2 linked regions of the Homo sapiens genome follow. The protein of the gene in region 1 interacts with the protein of each later gene in a biochemical or structural test. Each region holds a gene or a part of one and is shown in the gene's direction. Other genes may lie near its edges.

What was found. The genes of interacting proteins can lie anywhere in the genome.
Region 2: the proteins of DTNA (region 1) and DMD form a complex in vitro, tested with the Homo sapiens proteins (3 studies listed by BioGRID and IntAct, with this or other methods).

What each region holds. Positions count from the first base shown.
Region 1 is NC_000018.10:34,888,227-34,891,979, forward strand, and holds the end of DTNA (dystrobrevin alpha), read left to right. Parts: 3' UTR 1-2,073; coding exon of another isoform or gene 2,074-2,214; 3' UTR 2,215-3,618; downstream 3,619-3,753. UniProt on the Homo sapiens protein: May be involved in the formation and stability of synapses as well as being involved in the clustering of nicotinic acetylcholine receptors.
Region 2 is NC_000023.11:33,204,830-33,208,582, reverse strand, and holds part of DMD (dystrophin), read left to right. Parts: intron 1-3,753. UniProt on the Homo sapiens protein: Anchors the extracellular matrix to the cytoskeleton via F-actin. Ligand for dystroglycan.

The sequences.
Region 1 (3,753 bases):
CTTTGAGATTTTAGCAAAACAGTTTATTATACACTGTACATTTTTTTCACAGCAATTGGAAAAAAACAACCACTTGCAATCATTCAATAACCCTGAAGAATTTGGTTCCTGAGTGTACAAACTCAGAGCCCGGAAGCCAAGAAGGGTCCTTGGCCTGCACGGTCTGTAGTTGACTCCAAGTCTCTGTGAGCAGTGACTTGAACCAAACACACCAGGAATAATCCATTCTTTGGGGCCTCTTTCCAACTCGAGGTTGTTTTCTTTCAAGATACTCTAATCAGCCATAGAATTTAGTGTAAATATTTTTTTTTCCAAATAGATATCATATTCAAAAAAGGCAGCATTCAAATTATATAGAATCTAGTTTTTAAAATCAGCACAGATCTTCTTAAAAACTGTGAACTATGTTTTGAAATACTCGTTACTAAAGCTGTTTATAAACCACAGGTGCCATAAGATCCCCAAACGGACTAAAGTTATCTCTGCTCTTCCATGGTCTTGTTCCTCTCGTTTTGGCTTTAGGAAGCATGTCTTTAACAGCACCGCTCGTTCACAAGTTCCCCCATCAAGTTGTTTGGAGGCCTTCAGCTTTAAATGTACAGGCTTAAAGTGCGCTTGCAAACGTTTGCTCTCCTTTTTTTCTGAATGTTGATTGCCTTAGCTGGCCACCTGGTGTTCTGCATGTAGCCTTCTGTGGTCATGTGAAAGGAGACAGGCTCTTCTAAGTTGAGTTGGGATTTTTGCACTCAGTGAAAAGCTGAAGTGCAAAAGAGCTATCAAAGACAAGAGGATAAAAGACTGGGATAGTCTTTTCCAAGGACCCTCTTTAGAGGGCCCTAAAGACCTCCTTTGGGAATTCTGGGGAAAAAGAAAAAGTAATCTTCTACTTGCTTCAAGATTTGATTTTTTTAAAAAAGCCTGCGACCTATTCAATACATTATGCTTAAATTAGCAGTTTCTCTGGAATTCCTGTCTCTCCTTTAAAAGAAAGGAGAGAACATTTTAGAACAATAGTTCTCAAAGTGTGTTCCCCGGACAAGCAGCATCTGCAACACTTAGGAAGGTCTTCGAAATACTAATTTGTAAGCCCCACCTCAGGCCTACTGAATCAGAAGCTCTGGGGGTTGGGTCCAGAAGTCTGTTTTAGTCAACCCTCTAGGTGATTCTGATGCTCGCTAAAGGTTGAGAACTACTGCTTTAGAATGAAGTCGTATAATAAAGTCTCTGAAAAGGCCTTATTCAGAATAAGCAAGAAAGGTTCTGTGATTCACTTTTGCTTCTGGGGCTGGCAAAAACCTTCTCTGAACCCACACACCAAGTTCGTAGTTGGTAGGTGCCCAGCCAAGTCCTGACATCTTCATGCCCCCTCTGCAGAGGGCGGCTGTACGATGTTCACATGTCTGCGTTTGGTCAGACATCATCTCCTTGGCTGCCCTTTGAAACCAAATCACTTGCCTTGGGGATAAAGTGCTCAATTGGCATTAGTGAGAAGCCCATCCTATCCCTTGACATACTTAATCATATATCTCTCCAGAGAACTCACCTGACAAATGTCTCTGAGCACAGGCTGACACCAAAGTGGCACAACTGCACAGTTCTCAGATTTCTTTGCACAGATTGATTTTTATTGCGGGTTTTGTTGGGGTGTCTTAATGTTCATCTCTTTTCCACTGCCCATCCTCTGTGAACCCATACCTCTCTAGATGGAGCAGGTGGCCACTGGTGCCTCATACTCAGTATTGAAAACCACTACATCCCAGCTACCTATAATGCTGTCAGCTCAAAATCATAGCCAGGTAGTTCTTGAACTCAGAACTTAAATCCTGCACGTGGCACTCCACCACTGACTGGACCGAGCTGGCATATGTTGTTTCTTTGTGTTTCTACATCAAAATGTTCGTCTAAGATTTGAACTGTTCTGCTGATAACCTTCCCCGTTGTCATAGCTATTTCATTGCCAACCAACTCCATCACATGGTTGTTGATATCGTCATATAAAGCCATTGCAAGGACTCTGGAAACTGCCGCCAATGACCAATTTCTGACTAACCAGCCACCTTTTCTCTCTCTTAGCTCCACGTCAGCACTGAGACCAGACTCGAGCACCCCTGTCCTGTAAGCGAGACAAAATGGCGTGTGTTATTTTGGGGTTTTGTGTTTTTTGGTGGGTTTCTTTCCTTGGCTCTCCAGATTTACTTTTGGGGCCTGTTCTAAGTGCAAACCCAGCAAGTTTCACTTGTCCTGTCCATTAGATACAACTACATCTTGCGGGGGTTGTTTCTTTCTTGTTCCACAATGAATTGCACATCCATCTCCATCAGAGCTGATAGCCTGTTAATAAGCACTGGTCTAACACAGCCAACCCTCCTCCACAGCGCCATATTAATGGAGGAGGGGAGGAAGGTGAAATCTACTGCATGGGATTCAGGAAACAGTTGTGGTTGGTCAGGACGGAAGTTGGGGTAAGTTTGGTTGGTCAGAGGGAGTTGTGCTGGAGATTGTGAAAAATGGGTTCTTGAATGATCTACTATAAGGCAGGGAAGGTTCATTTGTAAGTAGTAATGTGAACTGAATTGCATTAAGAGTGTGTGGCCTTTGTTGTGATATACTATGTATTTTCTTATATGCATGAGCCAAACTGTTGCATCATAATTTAGCACTGATGTCTGCTTTTATTTTGATCATCTTTGTCCACCCTTATTAGTTCTTGGCTGTTAACCGTAGATAGATCTTGTAAATCCAGCAACCTTTGGTTGCTGCATTCCCCTTGGTTCGATTCCACGCAAGGAGCCACAAGTGAGAACTCCACTGTCCTTAGAAGAAAGGGCATTTTTACTTTTGAACCAAAAAGAGAAAAAAAAATCAGAAGTGTTGCATCTTGAGGCGAATTAACTGTAAGACATTTTTAATTATGACTACTGCAATTTGACACCATTTGAAATAATCAATTCAGAGACACTAAAGATTTCACAATATTCATTGGTATTGTAAAAAAAAAATACTATTGTATGGATTTTTGTATTGCTGTTAAGTATTGTTTTGTGTGTGTGTGTGTGTGTGTGTGTTGGAACCTCCTGGGGACATGTTATATTTTGAAGTGATTAAACTATTTAATTGTGTGTCTATATTTTGGAGTGGAATAATTTCTTCATTAAAAAATGTTTTTAAAAACACTATATCTTGGGTGGTTTATTCCTTTGTTTCAGTGAATCTTTCCTAAAGCAACGTGGAGTCAGTCTGTTGAAAGAAGGAAGGCAGGTACTTGCAGTTTAAAGCAGGACCCATTGATGGAATATTGAGCCACCGAGGCAAAATAGCTCACCTTCTCTTGCCTTGGGGGATGCATGGTTTTTACCATTCTACTGTTTTATTAGCATCTGTGAGCATCTAATAGAAATACTATTCTGCTATTTATGGAAATCCTTATTATAATTGATATGGAAGTGAGTTTGAAATTCTAACAGCTAACATATTTCATGTTTGTATCACACACTGTTCTTAACACTTTATGTGACTTCACTCAATTCTTTGAATCCTCTGCATCTAGCCATGTATTCTGCAAATATTAAGTGCTCAATGGTTTTTTTGTTGAATTACTGAATAAATGAATTAGTGGTGTTTGGTTTGTTTTTTTTTCTAGAGCTAGTGATAAAGGAGGATCAGCAGGGCTAGGAAGTCAATGTGGTGACAGCAACAGCAATCAAATTAAGAGATCCAAGGAGAGTGTCAAGAGTCCACATGTTAAGTGTTCTT
Region 2 (3,753 bases), on another chromosome or scaffold:
TTTAAACACACATCATTTTTTAAGGAATTGACAAATGAGACTAATGTACATTCCCTGTCTGACAACACAGAACGAACCAGGAAGAAAGGATTTATGGGGCCTGAGGTTATACAATTGGGGGTGCTATTTTAAGAAAAATAATAGAAAATTGGATACAGCCTTGGGAGGGGCCCCTCATGTAAGTAAGGCTTTAATAGTTTCTTGGGAAATCACCTCTGTATGAAGAGATGTGTTGACATTTAATCTTTTCCCAGTTACATTTTAAAATAAAATTGATGCTAGTTATATTTCTTTAGAGCATTTATTATTTCTCAAAGACAACCTTTTATTTAATGCAGATTAGAGAGTTAAAAGAATTTATAATGGTAGGAATTTGACATTTCTGCCTTTCATTCTGAAAAGATACATTGATTAAAGTGATGTCAAACTCAGTTAATGGAGGCGGTGCAGTTATTTGAAATATACAGGGTATATAATTTGAAGGCACGCCAAATCACAATGACAAGGAATAATGATGACCTTGGTTTATTTTTATACAGTACATTCAGGTTTTGATTGGATTCAGAGAGAGGCAATGGTTTTCTTTCTCACAAAGTCCTGCTATAGTCCTAGGAGGTTTGTGTTCTGTTATCAAGGCAGTTGGTTCGTATTGGAATATTTTCTGGGGAAGGTCATGGGCTGCAGTGTGGGAAATAAACGTTTTTATTAAATGCAACCAGGTTTCATGAAAATATTTCCCCTTGTAGAGTGTGCTCAATGCAGTATACTGATCTTCAAAAAACAAACAAACCAAGCAAATAAATAGTTTGTAGTCTTCACCTTTTCCCTACGTAAAACATCTATTAGTTAGACTTCCTTGGGGTTTCATGCTATAAAATATTGACATATGTTTGGAGTTCTGAAGTTTCATTTTAATACAGATATCAAAGTTAAAATGGCAACACCATGGGATAATTTATTATTTTACCAAGTTTGGAGGGTTTTTTCTATTTATGTCACTTATAGAATTGTCCCTAAAATCCTTGCAAAATTTCAAGCTCCCTCTACTTAATACTAAAAGTGAATGTGTCTTCCAGAGATTCTGATAACCCCTTCGAATGGGAGAGTAACTCTGCTATTTGTGAATCACTCCTATACTAAATATAGTTCCAAGATTAAAAGCTAAAATGATTTTGTTTATTTTTTCATGAAATTTTTTCATGAAAGGCTTGATAGTATAAAAAGTCTGTTTCCCTCATATATTACAGCATATTATAGCATTCAATGTGCCTTCTTAAACCAGATGGCTCCTCTAGAGATTATGAAATACTTTAACACCCAGGGCATAGCCTTTCTGTTTCCCCATTCAAGATTACTTCCTTGAATATGGCCCAACAAAAAGACCAAAAAAATACATTTGGCTCCAGCGTTTTAAGGGCATATAAATTTTCTTAAGCACAATTCTGATAGGCAGCAGACAAATGAGAATGAGGAAGGGAAATGGCTCTGCTGTCTTATGCTTAAAAGTGTCCTCATATAGAGAGAAACAACACACCCTGGGGCCTTTCGGAGGGTAGAGGGTTGGAGGAGGAAGAGGATCAGGAAAAGCAACTAATGGGTACTAGGCTTGATACCTGGGTGATGAAATAATCTGTACAGCAAACCCCTATGGCACAAGTTTACCTATGTAACAAACCTGCACTTGTAGCCCTGAACTTAAAAGTTAAAAAAAAATAAAATAAAAAGAGTCCTCATCTCACGGCCATACAACCTCTACCTCATTCCCATTAAAAACACAAAGATCAGTACTCCCTCTTTTATAGCTCACATCTTCTGTTTAGGCTGCCATTTTAAGGGATAATTTCTATTCAACTCTGAGCTCGATCTTTATTTTAATCTGATATCACTCGTTCAAAATACTTGGGAATTTCAGTAGGCAACGGAACACACAGAGCAATTTTCTGGAGGCCTACAACCTCTGAAGGTGACTTTGCGTAGTATATGTAATGATAGTAAGCCCTGAGAAAACCAATGTTCTTAGTAGTCTGGATTTGGTTTAGAAATCAATGTATTCCTGCTTTCTTTTGTGATCTTTTGCCTTCTCCCTCAATGCCTCACTTTCACTCTGTCATTATGAACCCCATTCCTCACTAATGGGAACTGGGGGAGAATGGACAATGATCCTTTAATTGAAATGGAGTTGTCATTTCCTTGCCATGCTGATAAAATGTTGTTGCTGTTGTTGTTTGTTGTTGTTCTTAAATGACTCTTTCAGAATTTTTAACTCAGTATTTTGATTACATACCATTTTAAGAAAATAATTGTCCATAAATTAAAAATGCTAGCAAATTGATGAATTGATTTTCTCATGCCAATTTGGAAATCTGAAATATATCTAAGACTGGTGAATAATATGTAGGTCTAATTGCCATTTGAATAAAAGAATCTGAGGAAGAGCTTTGCCTTTATTTTTGTTTATTATTCATTTTAGTTTAGTTATTTATTTTAGTAGAAAAATGTGGTTGTGTCAACGAAGAGGAGGTACATTAAAATGCATTATTAAAGCCAATGCTTATCCATGTAATGAAATGAGAATGTAGATGGCTTAATGGGTTTTGGAGAGGATTAAGATAATTTTAAAGAAACTTCAAAAAATCAGATGCTCGAATCATGATGTTTTTTGTTTATATTTAATAAATATGAAAACCATACATGGGCATATCAACAATGAGGAATTCACATATATATCACGAAGTCTCTTGCTAATTTGTCAACTTTTAAATGTGTTGTCTTCACTATCATGAAAATTTTGATTTTTAAAAAAGGTCAGTGTTAGCTGAGCACAATTACCATTACGGTGTCCCATATTATTTCCAATTATGGGCAAATAAAATGCTTACCCTTTAAATGTTTTTACCCTCTTCTTGGCTTTTGTTTTGTTTTGTTTTAAAGCGTTCTCCCTTCTTCCACTCTGCTTTTGGCTAAGACTGTCATGGAATCAGGACTATAAAAGGGCATAAACATCAGTAGCTTTTTTCTCATTCCTGGCACTCATCTTTATTTGCACTCAACTTGTCTCTTCCTTTATCAGATTACGGTTGCAATAGTACCTTAGCCTGAGCTAAGTGCTGACTTAAAGGGCAAGGGAGTCAGTACACTGTTACAAGTGCAGATTTTAGCCTTGGAAGCTGTGTGAGGAAAAATTAAAGAAATAAGAAAGAAAAATCACAAAATCAGAATGGCCCACGTATTTTCATCAAAGGCAAATTGAGTAATTCCTTTTTATGTTGGTGCTTAAGAACGATGTATTAGAAATAAATTGGTGACTAAGTGAACAAAATATTAATAAACTAGTTGAGTAAGTGAAAAAATAATAATCTGTAAAAATGATGAATCCCAATGACTCACATGTTGCAAAATAACTAGGAAGCAAAAGGGAAATTAGACTTTAAAGAGCGTAATCAGATGCAAGAAATGTTGGCTTGTAGGTGGTTAACTAAAATCGCTTACGGGAAGCTCAGACAGCTGGGGAATCCTGATTTAGTAGACGCTGAAGGGCAGGGCATGAGCCATGTGAACAGCTGCTGAAGAGCTAGAGGATTCCTTTGGATTAGGTGTACACACCCCGTCTCTAATGGGCTGTCAGAGAGCACCAAGTGTTATCACAGAGGTTCACTTTGCTCAAGCCTATGGCTTTTGCAGTGTTTTACTTTAAATGTCTGAAAATGGATTGGCTCTCAAAATAAATCCAAAAATAAAAGTATCAAAATAAGT